Homo sapiens: one gene and its partners. The protein of the gene in region 1 purifies or fractionates together with the protein of each later gene. This does not show direct contact. Each region holds a gene or a part of one and is shown in the gene's direction. Other genes may lie near its edges. The genes, in order: DYRK3, SORL1, GDPD3, TRMT61A, EIF3E, TPM1 and ATP5MF.

Evidence for each region.
Region 2: the proteins of DYRK3 (region 1) and SORL1 purify together in Homo sapiens (affinity purification with mass spectrometry; one large-scale study listed by BioGRID and IntAct). This does not show direct contact.
Region 3: the proteins of DYRK3 (region 1) and GDPD3 purify together in Homo sapiens (affinity purification with mass spectrometry; one large-scale study listed by BioGRID and IntAct). This does not show direct contact.
Region 4: the proteins of DYRK3 (region 1) and TRMT61A purify together in Homo sapiens (affinity purification with mass spectrometry; one large-scale study listed by BioGRID and IntAct). This does not show direct contact.
Region 5: the proteins of DYRK3 (region 1) and EIF3E purify together in Homo sapiens (affinity purification with mass spectrometry; one large-scale study listed by BioGRID and IntAct). This does not show direct contact.
Region 6: the proteins of DYRK3 (region 1) and TPM1 purify together in Homo sapiens (affinity purification with mass spectrometry; one large-scale study listed by BioGRID and IntAct). This does not show direct contact.
Region 7: the proteins of DYRK3 (region 1) and ATP5MF purify together in Homo sapiens (affinity purification with mass spectrometry; one large-scale study listed by BioGRID and IntAct). This does not show direct contact.

Annotation. Positions count from the first base shown.
Region 1 is NC_000001.11:206,638,063-206,642,403, forward strand, and holds part of DYRK3 (dual specificity tyrosine-phosphorylation-regulated kinase 3), read left to right. Parts: intron 1-4,341. UniProt on the Homo sapiens protein: Dual-specificity protein kinase that promotes disassembly of several types of membraneless organelles during mitosis, such as stress granules, nuclear speckles and pericentriolar material.
Region 2 is NC_000011.10:121,556,267-121,560,607, forward strand, and holds part of SORL1 (sortilin-related receptor preproprotein), read left to right. Parts: intron 1-1,047; coding exon 1,048-1,139; intron 1,140-2,324; coding exon 2,325-2,571; intron 2,572-3,252; coding exon 3,253-3,391; intron 3,392-4,341. UniProt on the Homo sapiens protein: Sorting receptor that directs several proteins to their correct location within the cell. Along with AP-1 complex, involved Golgi apparatus - endosome sorting.
Region 3 is NC_000016.10:30,106,882-30,110,836, reverse strand, and holds part of GDPD3 (lysophospholipase D GDPD3), read left to right. Parts: intron 1-2,404; coding exon 2,405-2,464; intron 2,465-2,572; coding exon 2,573-2,624; intron 2,625-3,955. UniProt on the Homo sapiens protein: Hydrolyzes lysoglycerophospholipids to produce lysophosphatidic acid (LPA) and the corresponding amines. Shows a preference for 1-O-alkyl-sn-glycero-3-phosphocholine (lyso-PAF), lysophosphatidylcholine (lyso-PC) and N-acylethanolamine lysophospholipids.
Region 4 is NC_000014.9:103,531,355-103,534,884, forward strand, and holds part of TRMT61A (tRNA (adenine(58)-N(1))-methyltransferase catalytic subunit TRMT61A), read left to right. Parts: intron 1-1,227; coding exon 1,228-1,494; intron 1,495-3,195; coding exon 3,196-3,467; 3' UTR 3,468-3,530. UniProt on the Homo sapiens protein: Catalytic subunit of tRNA (adenine-N(1)-)-methyltransferase, which catalyzes the formation of N(1)-methyladenine at position 58 (m1A58) in initiator methionyl-tRNA.
Region 5 is NC_000008.11:108,213,792-108,218,132, reverse strand, and holds part of EIF3E (eukaryotic translation initiation factor 3 subunit E), read left to right. Parts: intron 1-672; coding exon 673-799; intron 800-1,619; coding exon 1,620-1,721; intron 1,722-3,416; coding exon 3,417-3,526; intron 3,527-4,341. UniProt on the Homo sapiens protein: Component of the eukaryotic translation initiation factor 3 (eIF-3) complex, which is required for several steps in the initiation of protein synthesis.
Region 6 is NC_000015.10:63,059,747-63,064,053, forward strand, and holds part of TPM1 (tropomyosin alpha-1 chain), read left to right. Parts: intron 1-1,122; coding exon 1,123-1,193; intron 1,194-1,451; coding exon of another isoform or gene 1,452-1,527; intron 1,528-1,966; coding exon 1,967-2,042; intron 2,043-2,468; coding exon 2,469-2,531; intron 2,532-2,829; coding exon 2,830-2,899; coding exon of another isoform or gene 2,900-3,063; exon of another isoform or gene 3,064-4,307. UniProt on the Homo sapiens protein: Binds to actin filaments in muscle and non-muscle cells. Plays a central role, in association with the troponin complex, in the calcium dependent regulation of vertebrate striated muscle contraction.
Region 7 is NC_000007.14:99,457,168-99,460,745, reverse strand, and holds the end of ATP5MF (ATP synthase F(0) complex subunit f, mitochondrial), read left to right. Parts: intron 1-552; coding exon 553-660; intron 661-1,482; coding exon 1,483-1,599; intron 1,600-2,390; coding exon 2,391-2,419; 3' UTR 2,420-2,551; downstream 2,552-3,578. Other genes in the region: ATP5MF-PTCD1 (ATP5J2-PTCD1 fusion protein), read left to right, coding at 553-660. UniProt on the Homo sapiens protein: Subunit f, of the mitochondrial membrane ATP synthase complex (F(1)F(0) ATP synthase or Complex V) that produces ATP from ADP in the presence of a proton gradient across the membrane which is generated by electron transport complexes of the respiratory chain.

The DNA of each region.
Region 1 (4,341 bases):
AGTATTACAAAGGCTCCTTTTAACAAAAATAAGAAACAGAAAACATGTCAGAATTCATAGATCTGCAGGAGTTTTTTTTCCCCTGCACGGTGGAAATGCAGTCTTCGTTTATTAGTATACTAAAGAGAACCATTTTATAGATAGATGATAACTACAACAGTTTGGTTTTTAATGCACTTAATCATTTTGGGGACTGCAGACACTTAGCTTTTTTTTTTTTTTTTTTTTTTTTGAGGTGGAGTCTCTCTCTGTCACCCAGGCTGGAGTGCAATGGCATGATCTTGGCTCACTGCAACCTCTGCCTCCCGGGTTGAAGTGATTCTCCTGCCTTAGCCTCCTGAGTAGCTGGGATTACAGGCGCGTGCCACCACGCCTGGCTAATTTTTGTATTTTTAGTAGTCAGGGGTTTCACCATGTTGGTCAGGCTGGTCTTGAACTCCTGACCTCGTGATCCACCCGCCTCGGCTTCCCAAAGTGCTGGGATTACAGGCGTGAGCCACCGTGCTTGGCAGCTTTTTTTTTTTTTTAACTTAAGATAAAATTAATTTGCATTCCTTCAGCATGCATAGAGTGGTAGGCAGAGCAGGGTTTGGCCAAGTTCCATGACAAAGAGAGGCTATCCTATGACTTTAAAATTTCCTGCATATGTCATCAGATGAACAAACTGAATAATTGAATTGACTCATTTGTAATATTTCTCTTTCACGTTTCTGTGTTTAAGACCTGAAATTGTTTCTATATGGAAAAATCACTTCTATTTTTCATAGTCCTTCCTGTGGTCATCAGTTTTTGCTTAAAATCAACCTTTTTCCTTTTTTTTTTTTTTTTTTTTCCTGAGACGCAGTCTTACTCTGTCTTCCAGGCTGGAGTGCAGTGGTGTCATGTCAGCTCATTGCAACCTCCACCTCCCGGGTCCAAGCAATTCTCCTGCCTCAGCCTTCCTGAGTAGCTGGGATTACAGGCGACTGCCACCACACCCAGCTAAGTTTTGTATTTTTAGTAGAGACAGGGTTTCACCATGTTAGTCAGGCTGGTCTAACTCCTGACCTTAAGTGGTCCACTTCCCTCGGCCTCTGGAAGTGCTGGGATTACAGGCGTGAGCCACCGCACCCGGCCCTTTCCCCACTTTCAACACTAGTAGTATACAAAACGTGAGCTAAAAATATTTTGAAGGCTGGTCACCCTATTTTTCGTCCCCTTTTTGGAGTGTAGTGGGGTTTCTTTCCATTCTTTGCAAGTTGTTTCTTTAATATGTCAAAATGTCTAAGAACTTCAGAACCATATACATCTTGTGTTGCCCATCAGATTGCTTGGTTACTTGCTGCCAATTGGTTCACCTCTATAGGAAACTATTTGCAATTGGGTTGAAGTGTTAACATCTGACTTTAAGTCATTTTAACTGATTTTTTTTTTTTTTTTTTTTGAGATGGACTCTCACTCTGTCACCTAGGCTGGAGTGCAGTGGCGCAATCTTGGCTTACTGCAACCTCCCGGGTTCAAGTGATTCTCCTGCTTCACCCTCCCAAGTAGCTGGGATTATAGGCACCAACCAACATGCCTGGCTAATTTTTGTATTTTTAGTAGAGATGGGGTTTCACTGTATTGGTCAGGCTGGTTTTGAACTCCTGACCTTGTGATGCACCCACCTCAGCTCCCCAAAGTGCTGGGATTACAGGCGCAAGCCACCGCGCCCAGCCAAGTCATTTTTACTTTGATTCAGAGTTAGCCGATGCTATTTACCTTCCAGTAGGTTACTTACATTGTATGTTTCAGGATCAAAAATTAATTTCTTACTGCATGGTGTTAGGCATGACAGTTTTGTGAGGGAGCAAGAAGATTTTAGATGTCTTACTCATTACTCATTTCTTTTTTTTTTTTTTTTTTTTTTTTGAGACCGAGTCTCGCTCTCTCGCCCAGGCTGGAGTGCAGTGGCACAATCTTGGCTTGCTGCAACCTCCATCTCCCGGGTTCAAGCAGTTCTCCCTGCCTCAGCCTCCCAAGTAGCTGGGATTACAGGCATCTGCCACCATGCCTGGCTAATTTTTGTATTTTTAGTAGAGATGGGGTTTCACCATGTTGGCCAGGATGGTCCCGAACCCCTGACCTCAGGTCATCCACCCACCTCAGCCTCCCAAAGTGCAGGCTTTACAGGCGTGAGCCACCACGCCTGGCTGTCTTTACTCATTTTGCTGAAAAAGAAAATAAAAATAAAAAATGCCTTTTGACCTCTTGGTGCCACTTACATTTCATTATGCCATGACTCTATCCCGAGATCCTGTTACTTTTTTTTACAAAGTTTTCTAGCTTCATTTATTCAAGATGCTCCTACATTCTCATGGTAAACTATAAATCATCTGCCCATAGGCTTTTATTGGGTTAAGTTTTGTGTTACAGGGATTTAGGGTTTGGGAGCTGGGGAAAAGGTAGGGTTTTATATCTGAGTGAGAAGGATATTCCTTTATTCCTTTTCAATTTCTCAGCAAGATTTTTTTTTTTTTTTTTTTTTAAGACAGAGTCTCGCTCTGTCACTGAGGCTGGAGTGCAGTGGCACTATCTCGGCTCATTGCAAGCTCCGCCTCCTGGGTTCATGCCATTCTCCTGCCTCAGCCTCCCGAGTAGCTGGGACTACAGGCACCCACCACCACACCTGGCTAATTTTTTGTATTTTTAGTAGAGAGAGGGTTTCATCGTGTTAGCCAGGATGGTCTCGATCTCTTGACCTCGTGATCCGCCCGCCTTGGCCTCCCAAAGTGCTGGGATTACAGGCGTGAGCCACCGTGCCTGGCCTCTCAGCAAGATTTTTAAGACTTGATTAATACAGTAGAAGATTCTATTTAAAATGCCAGAAGCCCATCAAATTAGCAGGGTATGTGAAGCATTCTTATGAAATAAAACATGATAAATATGACATTATTCATGTCTCTGGATATAATTACATGGTTAAGAAAATACTTGGTAGAGTCAGTCATATACATTGCTTGGTTATTGTGATTATAACCCTAGACTAGAAATATTTAGTGTTTTTTTTTTCAATAGGTTTTTGGGGAACAGGTGGTGTTTGGGTTACATGAATAAGTTCTTTAGTGGTGATTTCTGAGATTTTGGTGCACCCATTACCCGAGCAGTGTATACTAGACCCAGTGTGTAGTCTTTTACCTCTCACTCCTCTACCACCCTATCCCCCAAGTCCCCAAAGTCCATTGTATCATTCTTAAGCCCTTTCATCGTCTTCATAGCTTTGCTCCCACTTATGAATGAGAACATACCATGTTTGGTTTTCCATTTCTGAGTTACTTCACTTAGAATAATGGTCTCCAATTCCATCCAGGTTGCTGTGAATGCCATTATTTCATTCTTTTTTATGGCTAAATAGTATTCTATGGTATATATATATATACCATAATTTCTTTATCTACTCCTTGATTGATGGGCATTTGGGGAAATATTTAGTGTTTTAAAACAATTATAGTTTAATATGTGTGAACACTGTAGATTTTTTTAGAACAATGGAAGGAAGGTTTTATTTATAACACATCAGACTTGATATGTAATTGATTCAGGCCAGTATTTGAGTTATTTACAGGAAAGGAAAGAAAGTTAAGAAGAGAACCCCTCCCTGAAAGGATTTCCTATTTAATGTGCTGGGAAAACTGGCTAGCCATATGTAGAAAGCTGAAACTGGATCCCTTCCCTACACCTTATGCAAAAATTAATTCAAGATGGATTAAAGACTTAAATGTTAGACCTAAAACCATAAAAACCCTAGAAGAAAACCTAGGCAATACCATTCAGGACATAGGCATAGGCAAGGACTTCATGTCTAAAACACCAAATGCAACGGCAACAAAAGCCAAAATTGATAAATGGGATCTAATTAAACTAAAGAGCTTCTGTACAGCAAAGTAAACTACCATCAGAGTGAACAGGCAACCTACAGAATGGGAGAAAATTTTTACAATCTACCCATCTGACAAAGGGCTAATATCCAGAATCTACAAAGAACTTAAACAAATTTACAAGAAAAAATCAAACAGCCCCATCAAAAAGTGGGCAAGGAATATGAACAGACACTTCTCAAAAGAAGACATTGATGCAGCCAACAGACACATGAAAAAATGCTCACCATCACTGGCCATCAGAGAAATGCAGATCAAAACCACAATGAGATACCATCTCACACCAGTTAGAATGGCGATCATTAAAAAGTCAGGAAGCAACAGGTGCTGGAGAGGATGTGGAGAAATAGGAACGCTTTTACACTGTTGGTGGGACTGTAAACTAGTTCAACCATTGTGGAAGACAATGTGGCAATTCCTCAAGGATCTAGAACTAGAAATACCA
Region 2 (4,341 bases), on another chromosome or scaffold:
TAAATCAGTTCTGTTGGTGGTACATGCTGCAAAGACTCTGAAGCAGTGCAGTGTGATTGCGCTTTTGGAGAGTGGGGCAACATTAGAATAGGCAGACAGAGCAGGCAACTTGAGGTTGATGTCTTAGCTGAGCCCTGGCTGAGAAGAGGATGATCTTTTGTCCACCTCCTGGGGATGCTGATAGAAGTGAACTGGCATCTACTGAATGCTGCCTCGGTGGTTATGTTATTGCTCTTTCTCTCCTTTCTTTAATTGCGTGTGGTCAGCACTTGGCTAGGGGCTAAAAGAATGCAGGTGATGCACAAGCACCCACCTTTTCACAGGCTGTGGGGCGACCACTGCACAACTCAAATACTGTTGGTGCAAAATGGTGTCAGATGAGCCAAGGTGCAGAGCTACTGATGCTTATTGGTCCAGGTGGGTCAGAAGAGTTAGGAAAGTAGGCAGGCCTGGCAGTGAGGTTTGAAGGAGAGTTATGCCTTGATTAGATTAAGCAGTGGGGCAGGTAGGCCCAGGATGGGATGTGGCAAGAGCAGACAGCAGTGAGTCCGCATCAGGCTTGGAGAAGCAAGAGATGACCAGCCTGGCTGACGGGAAGGAGCAAGAATATGAGTCCCACCTGTGGACTCTTCATTGCAAGGCTGTGACATTGAGAATTTGTTTTATGGGAGTGTGGAGTCATCGATTGCCTTGGAACGTGGAGTGACACGGGATGGTGAAATAAGTAAATGCTCATTTGCTTATTTACTTATTTGAGTAATTTACTTATTGATACTGCTTTGTCCAGATCATCATGCCCTGGAAACTGGGGCTTACATGGTTCTAGCTCCTCTTTCAGACCACTTGAAAATTGTCCCATGAGTCAGAGGAAGGAACAGCGCATTGTGACTAGAAGTTGGGGCAGGTTTCGCAGATGGGTCAGGTCAGGGAAATAGGCAGGCATGGAGGGGGCATGTCTGTAGCAGAAGCTGAGTAGCCATCTTTGGCAATGGGGGTCTTTAAGGAGCTCCGATCCATCTCAGCCTCTTTTCCCCCTGTTTTTGTCAGGTAGCTAATCCAGATGGCGACTTCCGACTCACAATCGTCAATTCCTCTGTGCTTGATCGTCCCAGGGCTCTGGTCCTCGTGCCCCAAGAGGGGTAAGTGTTGCCCCAAAAGGAAATCAGTCTTGCGTCCAATGCTACACTAATAGATTCTCATGGAAACACAGACTGCGGGACAAAAACTCTGTTTCTCATGATGGTGGTTGAAATGGTCTATTAACTGAGAAGTTTGAGACCACAGCTTAGTCATCGTGGTCAGGTAACTCCGTTCGCTTTTTGTTAGCCAGTGTCAGAGTCTCTTTAGGCATCCAGATGTCTTGCATCTGTGGGTTGTTTCTCTAGAAAAGTTGATGTTAAAAGAGAGCTTCTGTAGACATAGACAGGCCTGCTTGGATATTGTGAGAACTTTCTCTTGAGTTTCATGCATGGTACAAACATTTAATTCATTCCATCTTTCCCCTGCCTTCCCAGCATGTGTAGGTTTTCTTACGTACAATCAGTGTGCACTTGGGGAAGGCAAAGGTGCTTTTTATTAACTCATTAACTGAAGGAAACATAATTAAGAGGGAAATTCTGGATTTGACATTCTGGCTTTTCCTCTCTCGTAGCATTTATGATAGAGAATTGGCACAATTTTTTTCAAGGAAAATTCTAAGAGTAATGTATGTACTTGGTTGACAATATTTAGAGAGAACAGCACTTTATGAAAAAAATTTGCATTCTTCCTTTTCATTCTTAACCCTTTACCCTCACACTTCCTAGTGGTAATCATTGTTAATAATGTCTTGTGTATCTTTCATGATTGCTTTTACTTATGTACAAGTATTATCTTTAAAACACACACATATACACACACATGCACGCCAAATAGGATTGTAGTGTAGTTACTATTCTGTACCTTTTTAAACAAACTTAATATGTATTGAAAATAGTTCTGTGTGAGCATATATAGATTTTTAGGTTTCACAGTATTCTATTATATGTACCATAATGTGTCACTTCCTCTGCTGATTAACATTTAGTTTAATATACATACATATACATTTCTTTGTATATTATCTTTGCATAATTTGATTTTATCTATAGATAAATTCTAGTAAAGGAATTTCCAGGTGAAGGAATTTAAGTAGTTTCAGGTGTTGTCATTACATATTGTTATAATAATGCTGAAATAACCAGCCGGATCATTCGAAAGGAGTTTCTGACCTTTTCTGGAGTAGTATTTGAGCTCCCATTTCTCTAGTATTGATGAGGTATGTGTTCTGTCCCCATTTTCGCTAGGGTGATGTTCTGGACAGACTGGGGAGACCTGAAGCCTGGGATTTATCGGAGCAATATGGATGGTTCTGCTGCCTATCACCTGGTGTCTGAGGATGTGAAGTGGCCCAATGGCATCTCTGTGGACGACCAGTGGATTTACTGGACGGATGCCTACCTGGAGTGCATAGAGCGGATCACGTTCAGTGGCCAGCAGCGCTCTGTCATTCTGGACAACCTCCCGCACCCCTATGCCATTGCTGTCTTTAAGGTGAGTCCATTTGTTGCTGCCGGACAGTCTGCTAGAGCGGGTGAGGAGCATATGAGATCAGGAGCCTGCATCCCTGGGCTTTGCAGAGAAGCTGTTTAACTTCTTAAAGGTTGCCTTTTTTCCAAATTTGAGATAACTTATTTTCAGCCTATGGAGGGATGCCAGGCAGAGGCGCCAAGGGTCCAGGCTCCCCTGCTGTTCACATTTCAAAAGGTTAAAAGTGAAGGCTCTTCCCATGAACATTCCCAGTTTGCCCCTCAGTGTCAGTAGCCTCATTTCAGGGTGGTGTCTTCATTTTTTGTGCGCTTTGCTCACTTTATTCTCTGATGACTTCCGGTGAGCTCTGCACCACCTATAGTGCCTTGCAGTTCTTTTTCGACTCTGGAGAGCAACATGGCTCTTCCCAACTCTGGGAAACAGATTTCAAACTGAGGGGGTTGGGTTTGTGTCATAAACTTGAATGCTTATCAGATAGTTTCTTTTGGGCAGTTTCTTCTGTGGGGTTATATGGTGAGGTTTGGATAAAATTGCTGTCCTTTGCATTTAAGTAGAATCTTGATCAGGCTAGTCATTCAGCCAATAAATGTTAGTTGTCTCCTGCCTGGGGGAACTCTTACCCTTAGAGAGAACCAGAATAAAGAACGAAAGAGCTGGACTAATGGGCAAAGGTTTTCTTTTTAGAATGAAATCTACTGGGATGACTGGTCACAGCTCAGCATATTCCGAGCTTCCAAATACAGTGGGTCCCAGATGGAGATTCTGGCAAACCAGCTCACGGGGCTCATGGACATGAAGATTTTCTACAAGGGGAAGAACACTGGTAAGCCAGAGTCTCTTCTTTTGTCTCTGTAGAGTTGATCTCAAGAAAGGGGCTGCGTGTGGCCAATCTCTGCTCAGAGTAGGAGCTGGCAGCCTGCATCTTTGTTGTCACGACAACATGCACATTATTTAATTTCTTCCTAATGACATCTTAATTTCTTTTCTAATGATACACAAACAGCTGGAAGACAGCATGCTTTTGCCTGCCTAGAGTGTTGGTGCTTGGTGGGTAATTACACCCTCCTCCTGCCCTTGGCCCCTGACTGATTGGTGGCGCGGCTTCTGTTGCAGCTGGGAGAGTCCTAACATGTGCTTAATCCCTGTTTGGCATGCTTGCAGGAAGAGACTCTGTGCTGGGTGCTCAGATAGTTGTTGCTTCCTGACAGGGCCTCTTGCTTGTTCTCTGGTTGCCCAGATGACCTATTGCTCATTGACCGTACCTACCTCTGCTGGAATGGCACTGTGTAGTTAGGTGTTGTTTTAATTAACTTTTCCCACCATGAAACCCTAAACCCCATGAAGAAAGAGATGGTCTTTTTTATTCCCCGATAGTTTTACCAGTGTCTAGCACTTTGTAGGTGCTCAATTCATATTTGTTGAAAGAATAAGGGATGAAAAGGGAGGGGAAGAATTGCAGTGGGTGCAGACAGTAGCTGTCTTAGAGATCTACTGGGTGAGGCTTCAAGAACTGCTATGAGGCTTTGACCTGCTAGTCCTGGAGTCTGAGACTATTCAGTGGAAAGCCTTTATCATTTCATGACTGCTCTTTGATTTTGCTTATCTCCCAGCCATACTATTGATTCTAGAGGAGAAAGATCAGAGGATTACCAGGAAGAATAGTCCCTTTAAGAATTTCCCTCTTTATCTCAGCAGGATTAAATGGCATCCTGGGTTTGCTGATTCTCCTTTATTGACAAACTGCTAAGTTTTCTGTTCTTAACTGGAATGTTG
Region 3 (3,955 bases), on another chromosome or scaffold:
TGCAGTGGCCAGATCATGACTCACTGCGCCTCGACCTCCTGGGCTCAGGAGATCCTCCTGCCTCAGCCTCCTAAGTAGCTGGGAGTATAGGCGTGCAACACTGCACCTGGCTAATTGTTAAATTATTTGTAGAGACAAGGTCTCACTATGTTGACCAGGCTGCTCTTGAACTCCTCAGCTCAAGCGAGCCTCCCACCTTGGTCTCCCAAAGTGCTGGGATTACATACCTGAGCCCCTGGGCCCGGTCTCCCTTTGCTTTCTGACAGCTTCTCTGTGGTAGTCCCAGAGCTCTCTGCTCCCCTCTGTTGTCCAGAAGGAAGTCCCACTCAGCCCCCACAATACCTTGCTACAAAGAGATCAATGATATTTGTGTACCACCTTTTTATACCGGATTTTTTTTGTGTTTTTTGAGGAGTCTTCCCCTGTTGCCCAGGCTGCAGTGCAGTGGCGTGATCTCGGCTCACTGCAAGCTCTGCCTCCCTGGTTCACGCCATTCTCCTGCTTCAGCCTCCCGAGTAGCTGGGACTACAGGCGCCCGCCACCACACCCGGCTAATTTTTTTGTGTTTTTAGTAGAGATGGGGTTTCACCGTATTAGCCAGGATGGTAATCTGACCTCATGATCCGCCTGCCTCGGCCTCCCAAAGTGCTGGGATTACAGGCGTGACCCACTGCGCCCGGCCTTATACAAGATTTATAAAGTGTTTTAACATATTTTGGGTTGACTTTTACCTTGCAGCACCCCCAGGAGGTATAAGAATCATGACTCCCATGGTACCCTAGAGAATCTGAGGCCCAGAGAGGTTCTGTAATTTGCCCAAGGACACACAGCTGGAAATCCAGAGCTTAGGTTTTCCCTGGGTCTGACTCCAGAGCCTGCCCTAGGACACTGTCAAGGGTCTCTAAAGTCACCCCTGGAGTGGGATAATTAGGGGTCGTCCCACTAAGTGCTGTCTGGTCTCAAGAAGCTGGCCAATGGGCACAGTGGCTCACGAGGTTTTTTGTGGGTTTTTTGTTTGTTTGTTTGTTTTTGAGACGGAGTTTTGCTCTTTTTGCCCAGGCTGGAGTGCAATGGTGCCATCTTGGCTCACCGCAACCTCCGCCTCCCAGATTCAAGCGATTCTCCTGCTTCAGCCTCCCAAGTAGCTGGCATTACAGGCATGCACCACCATCCTGGCTAATTTTGTATTTTTAGTAGACACAGGGTTTCTCCATGTTGGTCAGGGTGGTCTTGAACTCCGGACCTCAGGTGATCCACCCGCCTCGGCCTCCCAAAGTGTTGGGATTACAGGCGTGAACCACCGCGCCCGGCCATTGTTTTTTGTTTTTGAGAAGGAGTCTCACTCTGTGGCCCAGGCTGGAGTGCAGTAGTGCGATCTTGGCTCACTGAAACCTCCGCCTCCTGGGTTCAAGCAATTCTCCTGCCTCAGCCTCCCAAGTGGCTGGGACTACAGGGTCTGCCACCACGCCCGGCTAATTTTTGTATTTTTAGTAGAGACGGCGTTTCGCCATGTTGGCCACGCTGGTCTCCTCCCACCTCAGACTTTCAAAGTGCTGCGATTACAGGTGTGAGCCACCACACTTGGCTGGCTCGTGCTTATTATCCTGGCACTTTTGGGAGGCTGAAGCGGGAGGATTGCTTGAGTCCAGGAGTTCAAGACCAGCCTGGGCAACATAGTGAGACATGTCTCTACAAAAATTTTTTAATGGCCGGGCACGGTGGCTCACGCCTGTAATCCCAGCACTTTGGGAGGCCAAGGCGGGCGGATCACAAAGTCAGGAGATCGAGACCATCCTGGCTAACAGGGTGAAACCCTGTCTCTACTAAAAATACAAAAAATTAGCAGGCGTGGTGGCGGGCACCTGTAGTCCCAGCTACTCAAGAGGCTGAGGCAGGAGAATGGTGTGAACCCAGGAGGCGGAGCTTGCAGTGAGCTGTGATCGCACCACGGCACTCCAGCCTGGGCGACAGAGCAAGACTCTGTCTCAAAAAAAAAAAAATTAATTTAAATTAATAATAAGATAAATAGATAAATAAGAAGCTGGCCAGGCCCAACCAGGAGGGCCTGCAGCCTGGATGTCCAGCTTTGGAACCAAGCGAGGCCCTGGCCCAGCCCCACCACCACTCTGCTTTGGGTCTGGCAAGTCCCTTTCGTTCTCTAAGGCCCAGATTCCTTATCTGGTGAATGGTGACTGGAGGGCCACACCCTTGAAGCGTGGTGGTCAGAGTAGGCTCTCTGAACAATGGGTGAATTGTTCACTGGGGCAACTACAAAGGTTATTCTGGGGGATTCTGGGGGGTGGGAGGGCAGCGCTACCCTAGTTGGCGGGGGCACTACCAGCCCACCCCACCTCTGGGACAGGGGAGACCCTAGGAGCTAACCCCCACTTCCTTCTCTCTGCAGGACCTATTTCCCATTTTCCTGCTCTTGCCTGAACCAGTTATTGGCTGTGGTTTCGAAATGGTGAGGTGGGCAAGATGGCTGGGTGGCGTGTCCCCATAGAGACCTACTGCTGCCCTTCTCCCAGGTCCCCTCTCATCATCACCTCCCACGTCCCCACCCCACCCCCAGGCTGATCATGAGGAAGAGTCTGATCCGACACTTGGAGGAGCGAGGGGTGCAGGTGAGGCCGTGACCACCACTTCCACCGCACACAGACCTGGCAGCAGGGTTCCGGTCCCACTCTGCTGCCAACTAGCTGCATCACTCGGGCAGGTGACCTCACCTCAGTTTCTTCGTCCCTAAAATGGGAAAATGGTATATTTAACTCTCTGGATACACACACACACACACACGAACACACACAATTTTCTTCTTCTGTGTGTGTGTGTGTGTGTGTGTGTGTGTGTCAAGAGTCTCACTCTGTCACCCAGGCTGGAGTGCAGTGGTGCAATCTCGGCTCACTGCAACCTCCACCTCCCGGGTTCAAGCGATTCTCCTGCTTCAGCCTCCCCAGTAGCTGGGACTACAGGTGCCTGCCACCATGCTTGGCTAATTTTTGTGTTTTTAGTAGAGACGGGGTTGCACCATGTTGGCCAGGCTGGTCTCGAACTCCTGGCCTCAAGTGATCCACCTGCCTCAGCCTCCCAAAGTGCTGGGATTACAGGTGTGAGCCACCACGCCTGGCCACGCACATATTTTCTTAACCTGACATTGCCAACATATGGATATGTAACTAGTACTTATTAAGGGCTTGATAAATGTTAGCCATTATGATGACAACAATGATGTATCATGATCCCTGATGAGAGGGGGCTGGGGAAAGATGAGAGATGGGAGAAACCAGGCCCAGCCCACCCCCCTCTCCCCTGAGCATTGGCTTCCACCAGATCATTTAATTAGTAAACGATCCTTGAGAATGTTCCAGGCACTATGGTACTAGGGGTGGGAGCTTCCCATCAAGGGTACAGGGAAGAAATGCCATAGGCAGAGGCTGGGCACGGCTCCCACCTGTAATCCCAGCCCTTTGAGAGGCCAAGGTGGGAGGATCACTTGAGCCCAGGAGTTTAAGACCAGCCTGGGCAACATACTGAGACCCTCGTCTCTACAAAAAATTTAAAAATTAGCCAAGCGCAGTGGTTTACACCTGTAGTCCCAGCCACTCAGGAGGCTGAGATGGGAGGATCACCTGAGCACGGGGTTTCGAGGGTGCAGTGAGCTATAATCAGAATCACGCCACTGCACTCCACACTCCAGCCTGGGAGAGATAGCCAGACTGTCTCAAAAGAGAGAGAGGAAAGAGCGTGAGAGCCAGAGACAGGGAGAGGGAGGAGAGGGAGGGAAACAGGAAAAAGGAAAGGAAAAGGGAAAGAAAAGAAAAATGCAGAGGCAGGGTGCAGTGGCTCATGCCTGCAATCCCAGCACTTTGGGAGGCCAAGGCCAGCGGATCAACTAAGGTCAGGAGTTCGAGACCAGCCTGGCCAACATTGTGAAACCCCATCTCTACTAAAAATG
Region 4 (3,530 bases), on another chromosome or scaffold:
CATTTGAGTTGAAAATGATGAGGAGGGACCTACGAAGAGCCAAGGGACAGCTCTGCACCAAGGAGGAGCCGTGCCGAGGCCCTGCAGTTGGAGCATGCTGCCGAGTCAGGCTCAGTGGGGGAGGCAGAGGGGCTGGGAGTGAGGTTGGAGGGGAAGCGAGCTCCACCCCGGAGGCTAACAAGTCTGACTTGCCCCTTAGTGGGAAGGGGGCATGGCCAGGCTTTGCAGAGGGGCGAGGCAGCAGGCTGGGGGCACCCAGGGGAGGGGCTGGACAGGTGGGGAGAGGGGCTGGCCCCTGAAAGGAATGTGGGAGGTGGCAGGACGTGGGACGGGATAGAGGGAGTGGAGGCACCTCCATGGGTCTGGCCCAAGCACTTGCGATGCTCAGCGCTATTTGGGTTCCAGGCATGGGTGGCAAGTGTGCAGTGGCTGCTCTAGCAGGAGTCTCCAGTGGAGGGGCCTGGGGATGGGAGTGGCATCAGGTAGATGGCCCCTGAAGCTGGAGTGGGAGGAGGGATGCAAGCCTTGACCCTCTCCATAAGACAGGAAGTCAAGCAGAGGGGCCATCTTGAGGGAAGCTGGGGAGGGAAGCTGGGGGCAGGTGCGCTGGGGAGGACTGGGGCCGTGTGGCTGGTGGCCAGGCCCTGCGTCCTGAGTCCAACCAGGCCAGGGCAGAGCCCCAGCCCCTGTGTGGTGGGGGCAGGTTTGGGCAGGCTTGGTGGGGGTGGGCTGTCTCAAGGGGACCAAGGAGCTTCTGGGGAGAGGTGGGCATGAGGACCGGCAGGGTGGGCCACTGTTGACGGGGATTGAGGAAGTGATGGGCCATGCATGGAATAAGACAGGGCTGAGTGATGGGATGGCCTCCCTGTCCCCCTTGCACAGATTTCCCCGGAGGCTCCAGGCAGCTGGGCTGCTCTCATTCCCTATACCTGCGCTAGGCAGGATAGGGCAGGGTTGCCACTGGCCTCGCCTGTGCCCACAACAGACAGCACGGCATACACAGCCTGTCAACCCCAGCTCACCCCTAGACAGGGTGCCCAACCCAGGGCTAGCCTGGGGCTTTAGGCAGCCAGGACCATACAGCCCTGGAATGACGCCCACCTGTAGCTTGGGGTCCTCCCAAGCCCTGTGTGGGTCTCCAGGGTGAGGTGGGGGTTGTTTCCTGGGAGGCTGTGGGTCCCGAGCAGTCCCAACTGATGCCTTGCCCATCCCTTCTTGTCCTGCCAGGCACCGGCAGTGGCTCTGTGTCCCACGCCATCATCCGCACCATTGCACCCACGGGTCACCTGCACACGGTGGAGTTCCACCAGCAGCGGGCAGAGAAGGCCCGGGAGGAGTTCCAGGAGCACCGTGTGGGCCGCTGGGTGACTGTGCGCACCCAGGACGTGTGCCGCAGTGGCTTTGGCGTGAGCCACGTGGCCGACGCCGTCTTCCTGGACATCCCATCACCCTGGGAGGCCGTGGGCCACGCCTGGGACGCCCTCAAGGTCGAAGGTGCATCCGGGGTTCCGGGAGAGGTACAGCCTGGGTGGGGGTGGGGCAAGGGTGCAGGACTGAGCTCCTGGGATCTCAGAGGGGTCCAGAGACCAAGCCACACCATGGCAGTGGCCAGGCCAGGGCCCCACTTTGGCCTGAGGTGAGGAGTGGGTCAGGCTGGCCAGGGGAGGCAGAGCTGGGGAGGATGGTCCCTGGCTGGGCCCTGCTCCTGGTCTCTGGCCTCTCCCAACCCCCTGATGGAGGAAGGTGGCAGCGCCACCCAAGTGCAGGGCAGGCCCGGCCGGAGGAGTCTGGAGTCCCCTCCCTGCTGTTTCCCAAAACCTCTCCTCCCCCAGGCTCTGGAGCCCAGGGAGCTGGCCCCTTTTAGGGAAGATGCTGGGTGCGGAGGCGGGGCAGCCCTGGGGAAGGTCGGGCCTCAAGCCAGGGAGGTGGCTGGGAGGCCCAGGGTTTTTCCCTTTTCTGGAGAAGGAGCAGCTCAGGCAGCAGGGGCCCCTTCCTTCTTCCCAGCTGAGAGTTGTATTCTGAGAGGGTTGAAGGGTGGAGGTGCTGGGCGCCCCACCCCACCTCAAAGATGAGCCGAGGCCTGGTGCGAACAGCAAGGCTGTGGCCGGGGGTCCCCTGCTGGCTCCAGCCCAGCCCTGACTCCTGGGTCCTGGTCTCTGCTGAGGTGGGTAGCTGTGGGGATCTCCACACCCTGCCTCCTAGGCTTCCTGCTCTGGGGACACTTCTGGGCCTGGACCATAGTCCCAGGGAGGCTGAACCCGGCAGAGCCTCCCCTGGGGCCCCCCTGCTGCCTTTGTGACTCCTTCCTCCAGCGTGGCTCGGGGAACCCGCGCCTGCCTCTGGGACCTGTCCCTTTCCCTGCGAGCTCCCCCTTCTGGGTCCAAAGGCTCCTGGCTCATTCATGGGCCCGGCATCTCCTGCCGGCCACGGGAGCCCGCTGGGGAGGATGCGGCATGCTCAGCCTCTGTGCCCTGTCTAGGCTGTTGTCACACAGCAGGTGCCTCCTCTAACCCCGAACCTCCTGGCGGCCCCGTGTTAGGGTACAGCTGAGGAGACCAAACCTCAGGGACGTTTGAGGACACTTGCCTGGGCCACATACCTCTACCCGGCCCTGGCTTCCCCAGGTCCTCCCTGCCAGGACAGGGACCCGGGCTGGGTTCTCATTCACTGCAGGCCAGGCCAAGTGAAGCCCGTGGCTGCCCTGGTGGGAGGCGGCAGGGAGGGGCTGTCATGCTCGGGCTCTGCTTCGAGTAGGCGCCTCCTGTTCCCGGGAGCAGCGACAGCCTCTAATTTCCTGTGACAGCAGCGGCCCCCGCACCGCCCCACGCTGCCGTGCTGTCAGAGCTGCTCCGGGCCCAGAGCTCCAGCAGCCCTGTGGAAGGCAGGAGAGCAGTGCCCGCTGTGGGCCAAGTGAGACAATGGCAGCGCGGGCTTGACCCGGTGCCTGGCACATGGGAGGGCCTGGCATGGCTAAGCTGGGTGACATGAACAGCGGCGCCAGGCCCCATGGGGGGCTGTCAGTTGAGGGCCAGGCCCCTCTGCCCTGCAGTCCCAGCTCTTGGAGAGCTTGCAGTCTGTGTTGGGGCTGTCTTAGGCTGGCCTCAGACCCTAGGGTGGGAGTCCAGGGATGCTAGGGCCAGACGGGCCAGGCTCTGCCACCCCTGCCCTCTGACCCTCGGGTCCTGTTTCCCACAGGCGGGCGCTTCTGCTCCTTCTCACCGTGCATCGAGCAGGTGCAACGCACATGCCAGGCGCTGGCAGCGCGCGGCTTCTCAGAGCTGAGCACCCTGGAGGTGCTGCCACAGGTCTACAACGTGCGCACTGTCAGCCTGCCACCGCCCGACCTGGGCACAGGCACAGATGGCCCTGCCGGCTCCGACACCAGCCCCTTCCGCAGCGGCACGCCCATGAAGGAGGCCGTGGGCCACACCGGCTACCTGACCTTCGCCACCAAGACCCCAGGCTAGGGGGCCGCCTCCCAGGGCACCAGGGAGCTGGGAGCACTGAAGGGCTGGGCAGGGAGGCCAGAG
Region 5 (4,341 bases), on another chromosome or scaffold:
TTTATTGGGTAAATAAATAGGGAGCTATTTGAGGAAATTAAGCAGGAGAAATAAGGGTAAACACCTAATTACAGGGCATTGTCCCATGTTGATCATCACAACAGCAAGATTTGCTAAATATTAGCCAAGACCCTGTTAATGTTTACCTGACATCTATTCCTTCCTAATTCCTACTGCTACCACTTTAACCAATGTCTTGTAATATTGTAATATTCCTTCCCCGTTGCTTCCAGTCTTTCATCCCCTGAATTATTTAATTTAAGTGGCTGATTTTCTCATTAGTATGAGTGCTTTGCACATAGGTTTTCACACATTTTTTTCTAATGGGTGAATGAAAGTCATCGCTTAGTAGCCTTTTGGAACAGACTGACAGCATGTCAATGAACCTTGCAAAATCCTGTTACTCAAAAATAATAATAGGATAATTAGCCTCTTGATTGAGTCTTCCATCTCACCCCATATTAAAGAAATAGTGGCTAGCATTCTCCTCATTTGGATTCCTGAAACTGGATTCTGTTTTTAAATTTCCTTGGAGGAGATTTTCTTATAATACTCATTCTTAAGTGTTTGCAGTCTTAGGCTAGTGAAATAGTACAATCTAATGACCTGCTCGAGAGTTTTCTTTATCTCACCCTGGGTAAGTTATTAAATAACTTTTATATTTTTTCTTAGATATCTTAATGCAATTCAGACAATGTGTCCACACATTCTTCGCTATTTGACTACAGCAGTCATAACAAACAAGGATGTTCGAAAACGTCGGCAGGTTCTAAAAGATCTAGTTAAAGTTATTCAACAGGTAAAACTAAAATATATATTGATTTTTTTTTTTAAATACCTAAGCTTTAGGTCTAACCTCTTTTTCTAAGGTAAGACTTAGTTCTTAAGGTACAAACGTTTTTAAAAATAGGTGGAAGGAATACTTGAAGTTTAGAAAAGAGAAGACCCTCAAATGGGCTTTTGTTTTCCTTAAGTCCAAGATACACAAGTTGGATGTGGTAGGAATGATTATTACTGTCTGCTAGATGAACACTTAATATATACATTATGTGTATGTGTTTCTCTTATTGCAAAGAGTGAAGAAAATCTGGAACCTGGAGGTGGGGGTCATTACCTGTGTAATTCTACATGGGTGAACTTTATATACAATACCGTTTCAATAGACCCCAAGTTGGGCAAAAGGTTTCAGGCAGCCATGCTGATTGATATTTAGTGAGCTTGTCAGCAAAACCCGTAGATTAGAAATATAACTTAAATATTTATTTAAGAGTGTATTAAATACAAAGAAGTTATTGTCATTCAGTAGGGAATGAATACCCTTATGATTGGGGAAGTTTATTACTGTTTATTGACCAAGGGAGACTTTTGGTAGTAGAGGAATTTGAAAGCTTTCAGAATGCTTCTAGGATGAGACTTTAGAGAACTTGGTTTGAAAGACATAATAAGCTTAAGGTGTGGTCTGGAATCAGGATAGGAACAATTGTTTTGGGAAGATGCTAGGTAATTTGGCTAGAAATTAATGGTAAAGAAGGAGAAAACAAGAAGATTGGGATATTCTGGGGCAATCTGCTAAACAATGTTGAATCAGACTTACCTTGACCGTTGACTTATTTTTACAGGAGTCTTACACATATAAAGACCCAATTACAGAATTTGTTGAATGTTTATATGTTAACTTTGACTTTGATGGGGCTCAGAAAAAGCTGAGGGAATGTGAATCAGTAAGTGTGAATTTTTATTTATAAACTAATACTATTCTTAAATTTTTGGATATTGTAACGTTAATCTTGCAGTGTCTTCCTTAAAGTAATGAAGTAATTATAACGGAAATATGCTTATTAATCTTAAAAAGGCCTAAATGGCTCATGTTTATTAACCTTAAAATGGCTTAAATGGCTTGTGTTTATTAATCTTAAAATGGGAATGTGCTAGAGTGATGACTTTTTTAATGTTGTTGCCATGTGTTTATCCCTTTTGTGAGGGAGTTTGTTAAAACATTGGGGGTAATTTAAATTTACAGACATATCCATAATTTCATGTCTTAAATCTCGAATGAATATTTTTAATATTTCATATGTACAGGCAAGGTCACTTTGAATTGCAAATAACAACTGTGTTTTTAATTTTGGTTCATAGATGGGCTTATCTTTAGAATATTTCCCATGGTTGTATTTAACATTTGTGATAAACCAGGCAATTCATTGTAATTACGAATTTTATAACGGCGGTGTCTCTTATTGTTTAGTAGAAATTAAAGTACCTTTAGAGCAAATGGAAGACTTATAGTTGTTTTGAATAATTAGTTTACAAGTTTTAAGAAACTAAACTAAGAATTCTAACTGCTAAATGTAGTTGCATTTACCAGATTCACAAGTTACTGGTTATCAGTTTCACCCTTGGAACCAAAATTTTGGCACAAAATGGGCAATTTGTTGACAAATATCTTACTTCTCTAAGGAAAAAAATGATCATGCAAATATCCATTCCCTGATGATTTTCTTATTTTATTTTTTTTCAGACAGAGTCTCACTCTGTTGCCGAGGCTGGAGTGCAGTGGCATGATCCCGGCTCACTGCAAACTCCACCTCCCGGGTTCACACCATTCTCCTGCCTCAGCCTCCCAAGTAGCTGGGACCATAGGCGCCCACCACCACGCCCGGTTAATTTTTTGTATTTTTAGTAGAGACAGGGTTTCACCATGTTAGCCAGGATGGTCTCGATCTCCTGATCTTGTGATCTGCCCACCTCGGCCTCCCAAAGTGCTGGGATTACAGGCGTCAGCCACCGCACCTGGCCTCCCTGATGATTTTCAAACATTAGATGGAATAGAAAATTAGAATCCAATATGGTAATTGGTGTTTTTTTTTGTAGTCATATATTGCATTATTAAGGTAAATATTGGCGTATATTCATTATGCTAAGTGTCTAGGTTTTGATGTTAAAAGACCTAGAGGGTACTTGGTTGCTGTTCTTGAAATTAAAATATTCTCTCTTAATTACACCATCTGTGGAATAGTAGCCACCTTTTGCATTCTTTTCCTTCTAATTTCTAAGTCTACTTAATATTGTAGAAATACTCCGAGCTTGTAGTCCATTTATAATTATTTTAAATAGTTGGAAGAGATAACATTATCTGCAGAGCATTTATGTAGAATAATGGATAGTACCAAACTTTGTTGTCAGAAGGCTACTTTATTAAAGTTATCAGAAACATTGCAGTTTTTAGGTCTTTATCTTGTGGTATTCGTTTACTACTTATTTAAATCATTAAAGATTTGAACACAGTGTTCTAGAAAGTGCTGTGGTATAAAACTCATGATTGTAGAATGGAAAAATAAAGCAGATAAAGTATTTGATTCACGTTTCAGGCAATTGCTTGTCAGCATCATTAATTTTTGTTGTATTTGTACATATAGGTGCTTGTGAATGACTTCTTCTTGGTGGCTTGTCTTGAGGATTTCATTGAAAATGCCCGTCTCTTCATATTTGAGACTTTCTGTCGCATCCACCAGTGTATCAGCATTAAGTAAGAACACCGTGATTTGATTTGGATTTTCTACTTTAAAATTCCTGGAAATTTCCATTTATTGTGAATTTACACTTAATAGAATTCCAGTTAATTGGATTTTTATTTATTTTTGCTTTCAGAAGAACAATGAAACAATTTGATAAAATTATTTAAAAACCTAACTTTTGCTACAGGCTCAGATAGTTTTAGCTTGAGTGGCATAATTTTTCAAAATACTAAGTTGAAGGCAATATATGATTATCAGTTACCTTATTGAAGAGTAAATACTCTTGTACCTTTACGTAAGGAGAAAAGTGTAGTAAACATTTCTAAAATGGTTTTCAACAACAGTACAAAGGAGATACCCATTAAATTGGAAATTCTGTTGAAAGACCACTACATTTGGTAATCCTTTCCATTTAGTTTGTATGATTTAATTACATATTTGACTTCTCCTATAGTAAACTCCTATGGCATCTTAAAATGTTGAAAGATGGAAAAATTATAGTGAATTTTAGTTGTAATTTCCTGTTTTGTCAGAAAATATTGGGAAAAAATTGTGAAATGTACATAACCTATTAGAAATAAATTGTACACATTACAGTTTGAAAAATGACTAGTGCCCTTTGGGCACAGAGGAAGTCAAACAAATGTTTAAAAACCTACTGCTTTAGTGTTTGCTTCTGAGGAATTGTGCATAAAACAAATTCTTTTTCTTTAATGCCATTTGTTTTTGCTTATCCATACTTCGCTTGCCTAATTTTAGTGGGCCGTCCGTTGAAGTGGTTGTCCAGAGTTAGAAGGATAGTATAATCATGGGATTTTTCCTATGG
Region 6 (4,307 bases), on another chromosome or scaffold:
GTACAGTCTTGATTCCCGAGTGAGGCCATCTGCTTTGTTGGCAGAAATGGGTGGTTTTGAGAAGCAGAGTTCCTTTGTGTCCAGAAAACGGTTCTAATTTTAATCCTGCTAGGGGATCCCAGGCTTTATCAGGAAGCCAATCAGTAGCACTGCGAAGAAGGACCAAAACTCCTCTCCCCCAGCCACAAAGACCCGGACAAAAGATCTTTGGCCGGAAGGGAGAGTTGGGCCCTGTGTCTTGTGAAAGGAGGCTCTCATGCTGTCATGGTGCAAGTCATTTCTTCCCAGAGTGACCTGGCACATCCAGATTGGGCAGCTTAGAGACCACAGACAGTTTCTCAGTGGATTCACAGAGGCCTCTCTCCTCAAGGGTGGTAGAAAACTATTATCAACGCAGGTTTTCAGCAGAATTTGCTCCTGGTCGTGTCCCCATGAAAACAGCCTCCTGTGATAAGAGGCAACTTGATTATTAAGGTTTCTGTTTTTTCCTTATTGGATCACATCGTGGCTATCCTGAAACAGCATTGCCCCTCCTTTTTATTACCATTATTACCTTCAGATTACACTATGCTCACAAGTTTTGATCTGCTTCAGAGGCTCCCTTCCTCTCTCTGGTTCTTCCACTAAATACAAATTTGATTTTGTCAGTTATCTCACCAACTTGTCTCACGTTAGTGTCTCTTGTATTCTTCCACTGCAGTAAGGAGGTAGATGCACAGATCAGCCATCAAATTGATGGAGTTCTTAGGTTTACTTTGTTTTCCTGGCAGCCCCCACCTTTTTAGTACATGTCTCATCCTACTGCTGTTTTTGAGATTGTGAATGTGTATTTTATCCCTCCTTCCACATTTTGGTCTGGCTGCCGGTTCACCTAGGTCAGACTTCCAATTGAGACTGCCCAATCACAGCTAACCATTCTGAGTCAAAGCAGAAGCCTCTGATCTCCTCTCTGCTGGCACTCCTAATAGAGAGTTGCTTCTCTCTGGTCTACCAGAAAGAGGATCATATTGTTTGTAGACAAAACCCTTAGGGCCTGATGGGATCTGATCTCTACCCCCATGCCCTTCTGTTACACAAAGCTTGCAAGACCCATGGTGTGTGTGTTGTGTCTTCCTGCTGCAGGTGGCCCGTAAGCTGGTCATCATTGAGAGCGACCTGGAACGTGCAGAGGAGCGGGCTGAGCTCTCAGAAGGGTAAGCGGGCCCGGCGCCAGGAGGCCACGAATGGGGTGCTGCAGAGCAGTGACTAAACAGCATGACCTTCTGGCAGCTGCACATTACCTGTTTCAGCTCCGGGCTCCTTTTGTGCTCATTTGATGTGGATGAGCCACGAGTATGGAACATGGAGGACTCGTGTGGGGTGTCTTATGTATGAATGCGTGTATCACTGCATGCCTTACCTGCACACTGATTTTGTGAATGGCCTTGTGCATTTCCTGTGTCCACTAACAGCCAAGTCCGACAGCTGGAAGAACAATTAAGAATAATGGATCAGACCTTGAAAGCATTAATGGCTGCAGAGGATAAGGTACTGATGGCTCGTGTGGTTTTTAGGTTTAACTGCAACCCAGACATCTTTCAGCTTCCAATGCCTCCTGGTTCGTTTGGTATAACGACTGCACCTTCACTTCACCCTCTGCTATTTATATCTTGCCTTAAGTGCTTTCCCTTGGTCCTTTATGCTCCTTTGTTTTCCCTTCATAAATGCTCTTTGGGCAGCCAAAAAAGGAGCCAAATTATCGCACTTCAAAGTTGTTGGATTTGGTCACCCTGCCTTCTGCTGTTGCGAGGTTGGGGGGCAGTGTTCCTGGAAAACCTAAACATTTTAATACCTGATGATTTGGCTACTTTAAGGCAGCCCTTCGTCTCTAGGACTCAGTTTTCATTTTTTCCCATCCCTCTCCTTTTTCTCTCCTCCTTCCTTTGGCTTGTCTCCCACCCTTTCTGCCTCTGATCGAAAACATTAGCAAATGTGCCGAGCTTGAAGAAGAATTGAAAACTGTGACGAACAACTTGAAGTCACTGGAGGCTCAGGCTGAGAAGGTAGGCCAGGAGGATGGTGTGGGGGAAAGGCATCTTTTAAGAGCTGCTCAAAAGAGGCCCTGCCAGAAAGCAACACTTACAGTAGACATTTTAGTAAAATGGCAATATTGTGAGGTGATTTTTGGAGAGTTACTAGATAACAAATTCTTTTTTTTAACTAGAGAATTTATTTTATGTTAGGGATATGAGGCATCAATTTAATTTAAACCAAGTGCCAAGTGGATAAGTTATCTTGTTGTTATCCCATGTAAAACAATAGGCAAGAAAGCAGAGAATGTATTGCAGTGTGCCATTTGATATCAGAGGTTCCATTACCTCCTAAGAGATCCTTAACATCTGTTGGCTGAGCTGGCGAGTTCTTTGCATGAGAAGCCATGAGTAGATTGAGCTGCAGCCTGACATCTGGAATGCTCTTTCTAATTACAGTACTCGCAGAAGGAAGACAGATATGAGGAAGAGATCAAGGTCCTTTCCGACAAGCTGAAGGAGGTAATATGAGAGTTGTGGATGAAGCCAACTGGATTTTAAATGAGTTTGTTTTCATGGAACCGGTCAGGGCCTTTTCATTTTAAAGTTCCAATGATCCAAGTCAGGAATATTCAAAGGTCGCCTTGGAGTTTATGTACTGTGCTAACTGCCATTTCTCACAGAGGTGACTGAAACTGACAAGTAGTTTCTGATCCATTTTATAGGTGATGTGCTTCATTTTCATCCTCTAGTTTTCCCTATGTTTGTAGCTACAGGAAACATAAAACTTCCCAACTTTAACTCAAATAAATCATTACAGGCTGAGACTCGGGCTGAGTTTGCGGAGAGGTCAGTAACTAAATTGGAGAAAAGCATTGATGACTTAGAAGGTAAGATCTTAAGTAGTGTTTTTAGTTTAATCCTTATGGTTGAATACCAACCTGGCAAAACAATTTTCCAATTCAAGGGCATCCACATTGATACGCTCCTTTGCACTTGCACATTCTTCCTGTGTGTCCTCTGGGGTTTTTCTCTGTGGCTCTTGAACTCATGAACCTAAGTCTTCTGCTCACGAGGTGACTAGTTAGCCACCAGCCATAGTGGCAAATGCCATCCAGCTTGACTTCATGCTCATTACAAGTGTGGCAGGTTTATTTTTCACTGTGAGTGAGGTGCTTATTGGTGAGAATGACTCTAGTATATTTTATATCTTTAGTGTTACTTCCTAATTAAATTGGGAATGATGTGGTGATTGTGGTCTTGTTTTTAGAAGAACCCATCTTCTTCCAAGTATGAATTCAAAGTAAGGATTTAGGGGTTATTTTAAGTCATATATTATCTTAACAAAATACTTTATATCCTGAAGGAGGAGGGAAAAATTATACTTAAGCATTTCTTCCCTAAGGCACTTAGGTTTTATTTTAGTAATAACCACTCTATCTCACAGATATCCTAAATGTTGAGCTTTGAAGCTTGTGAAGGATTAGCTGTGAACAAGAAAGAAAAAAGACAAATATCTACATCACAGAAGGGATTAGAGAAGGAACTAGTGTTTGGTGCAGATAATAACCAAAATAGTGGAGAAGAGAGAATGACAAATGGTTGCAAAATGATCTGCCAAAGTGCAGCAAAGTATGAAACCTGCAGCATTACAAAAACTAAGTTGCAGACTTGCCATATAAAGTGTGGCGCCCATTGCTTTTCAAGCCTCCTGGACCAGTAATAGGCAGCTTGAGTGGGAAGACCACAGGAGTAGCTTAAATGGCACTAAGAAATCGCTATCCCAGTGGTCTAGTGTGGTCAGGAAGTCAGTGGTTTGAAGGTGGAACCAGATAAGGACTACAGGCTGTAGTCACAAATTGTTCTTCCAAAACACTGCCCTTGCATTTTTTTCCCATTGTTTATAGCTGCAGATGCCTGACTACTCCAGTGTAATTAAAATATAGCTCTGCAAAAGAAAGATGTTCCATTAGCCCCTGCCTCCCCTCACCAGGAGACAGCCTTCTGTGGTTTCGTTTACAATTTAACATGGTTTACTGATATACCTACCATATTTGTTAGGATTTTCATATTGAGTCTTTTTCATTTTATTTTCTAATGGGTTTTGTTCTCTTTGTTTTTGTTTCAATTTACTTAAAACAAAACGCACGCCTCCTGCATTGGCCACCTGCTGCGGCACCAACCCCTTCATGCATTGCCCTTTTCTTGCTGCTGTGTTGGGATGGTGCGCGCACCACCCTCACTCACCCTCCATTTCTTGATCACTCTCCATGTTCTTGCACCTCTGCCTTCCACTTC
Region 7 (3,578 bases), on another chromosome or scaffold:
CTTCCACATCCCCTCTTGTACGTTCTCCAGCGACACATCCCCAGGGTTGGACAGGGCACCCTCATATTGGCTTCAGGGACATAGGAGGGCCAGTCCTGACCCCACGTTGTGTGTGTGACTTTGGTCACGTGGCCCAACCTCTCTGAGTCTATCCCCCCTCCCCTCCTTTAAGGTAAAGACATGAAGTGCTTGTTGTGAAGATTAAATAAGCTAATAATGTCAAGTAAATGTTAGCTTTGCAGTAATCTTTCCTGTCCGCCACGTTACTGCTTTTTTCGAGACCCTTTTCTGGAGTTACTCCCAGCAAGCTGTTACTCAGACGTCCTGTTGGTTAATAAAGCTGTCCCTGCAGCAGTTCTGCTATTGTATAGACTCAGTCTTAAAATAGTGGGCTTGATGTGACATATTTCTTCATAATATTGTGTATGTGCAGCCTCTGTGTAATTGCATTATGCACCTTTATTGCATAGTTGAAGCAGTGGCAGGAAAGGATGCCATATGTGTTACTGGGAGATTATTCAGTGGGTATTTTTTCTCACTCTTCCGTTTCAGTACCAGTGAAGGACAAGAAACTTCTGGAGGTCAAACTGGGGGAGCTGCCAAGCTGGATCTTGATGCGGGACTTCAGTCCTAGTGGCATTTTCGGAGCGTTTCAAAGAGGTCAGAGCCTTGTGGATGTCTGTAAATGAAAGCAAATCTCTGGGTCTTCAGATCTCTTTTTTGCCATGAATTAATTTGGGCAATGAAGGCCTTGTTGTCTGAAAGCAGTAAGTTATGTAGAGGATGACAGGGAGGGATGCTAGGCCTTGGACTTCTGTGGTTGATTGGCCCTTTCAAAGGCTGGCTCTGAGATATTACAGCCAAGAACATGTTTCCTGTTGCTTGGAATCAGTATGTCTGCCTCTGTCTTAGAGAAATCCTAAGACTTCTTTAAGAGGAAAATGAATTGGAACCGTAGTGGGCATTAGTCTATAATATGATGCTCTCCTCCCTGCCAGAACTTCAGGACAAATATTTGAAATGGCCTATCTTGGCCTGGTGTGGTGGCTTATGCCTGTAATCCCGGCACTTCGGGAGGCCAAGGCTGGAGGATTGCTTGAGCCGAGTTTAGACCAGCCTAGGCAATATGGAGAGACCCCATCTCTATAAAAAAAACCACACAAGAAAAATTAGCTGGCTGTGGTGGTGCATGCCTGTAGTCCCAGCTACTCAGGAGGCTATAAGCTCACAGCCAAAGGGGAGAGGTGGAATCCAGGTAGGCCTAGTTCAGGAGCTGGTATGTGCTTATAGTTCAGGCTATGGGGATGAGAGACCTTACTGGCATTTGTGCTTGTCATCTTTATCAGCCAGTGAATGCAGGGCGAGGGGCTTAAACAGCCAGAGCAGGACTAGGTCCCTGAATGTCAGCCAGACTCAACTGTGTGCTCAACTTCACTCAAATGTGAAGCCCAGCAGGGCAGTGAGCGCCTCTTGCGTTTGCAGGTTACTACCGGTACTACAACAAGTACATCAATGTGAAGAAGGGGAGCATCTCGGGGATTACCATGGTGCTGGCATGCTACGTGCTCTTTAGCTACTCCTTTTCCTACAAGCATCTCAGTGAGTGCCTCTGCGGCGTCTTGCCTTTAGTTCCCATGAGAGGGTGGTGGTGACTGATTTCATTAGATACAGCAGCCCACCTTCTTCTGAGGCTGAGGGACCTTTAGTTAAAGTTCCTTATGTTTCCACCTAAAAGAATTGGAGGGACCTATCAGAGTACAGTATGTGGGATATTGTTTGAAATGAGAAAATTGTGACAAAGAGAACACAGGAAAATCAAGATGAAGCCAGGGTAAAGAGAGTACTTAGAAGCATTCTTTAAAATACAGCACACTGTGAAAATTTGGCTCGATTTTCCTAGTAGCCAATGCAGAAAGAGAAATGAGTTGAGTGGGATAATCTGGTACCCCAGAAAAGCATGGCTGTTCCGGCTCTGAGGCTTGAGAGGAGCTTGTCTGGTGGGAGATTGGCGGGAGGTGTCGGTGGCAGCCTCTGACTAGGCTGTTTCTGACAGTGTAGTGTACACCCCCTACCCCCACCTCACTCCCATTCTGTGGCACCAGGGCGGTCCTGCCTCTGAAGGACGGGTTCTCTGGGGCTGTTTGTCTGAGCGTGTGTTCCCTCTGTTCCTTCTGGAAAGAAAGTGGTTGGCCAGGTGGCAGGTTGGCTCCTGAGGTGTCTTTGTGCCCCCCGGGTCTGCTGATTCTGCAGAGACACCGGCAGGCGGGTCATGGGTCATCTCTGAAGGGAATTCTCAGGAAGGCTTTGTGTGATCTCAGCCTGCTTCCTGCCATGCTGTGCCTTCACTGTAACCTTTTAAGATACTTACCATCTTGCCTTCCTGACTTCAGAGCACGAGCGGCTCCGCAAATACCACTGAAGAGGACACACTCTGCACCCCCCCACCCCACGACCTTGGCCCGAGCCCCTCCGTGAGGAACACAATCTCAATCGTTGCTGAATCCTTTCATATCCTAATAGGAATTAACCTCCAAATAAAACATGACTGGTACGTGTGCTGATTGCCTGCCTGTCTGCCGTAGCCATTATCCCATGTTCCAGGGGCTCCTGTGGCACAAGGTGGGGGGAGGTCGTCTTTCCAGGCCGTTGACCGGTGAAGGCCTTTGTGGACTTCCCAGACCACCACTCTGGTCGTGTCCCAGCTCCCTGGAGGGCAGGGTGTCATCCAGACCTTCCCGAAGCAGCAGTGCCGAAGTCCGTCCCTTGCCATGAGTGCTGTGGGCAGGTGCATTTGCAGACATTCTGGCCTTTAGTTGGCTGGCCCTTTATGGTGTAACACAAAGGCTTGCGTACCTGAGAGCGCCAGATCCCACCCCGGCTGTCCTGTGGCTCCAGGCAGGGATGGCCCGCATCCTGTGTTTCTGCATCACCCTGGGGCATCAAGGGCTACAGGGTGAGGTGACCCGGCACTGTCTGGAGAGACCTCAGGCAGCACTCACGCCCAGGCTGCAGGGATTGTGGCCCTCCGGCTGAGGCGGCTTCTCTAACAGGAGGCTTAGTGGGTTGGGGGTGATGGGGAAAAGTGAGGGGCTATGGCGGCCCCTCCCTGCTTCCTCTTCATCAGAGCCTCATTGGGGGTGGGATACTGTGCCCCAGAAATAGGTGCCACCAGACATCTGAGCTGAGGTGGAGGACCTGCCTGCTGGCTCCACAGATCAGACTCCCAGACTTGACCAGCTGCTTGCAGGCCTTCTGGGCAGCTGCACTTCCCTTTGTGAGGCTGACATTTGTTGAAAGGGACAAGAAAGCTACGCCGTGATTGCAGCCAGTGTAAAAGGGTTGGCATGAGACCCTTAATTAATGAGACATGGCTTAAAAAACAAGCTTTAATCCATTTCATAAAAATTGTTCTTGCAATTGAACACAGCCAGGCCCACATGCCCAGCAGGTTGCAGGAGACAGTTTCACATTTTCCAGGCTCAGGACAGGGCAGTCTCCTCCACATGCCACAGGTGTCTGAGTGACAGTGTAGACGCCTGATGGGCAGGAGGTAGGCACAGATGATCTGAAGGGGTCAT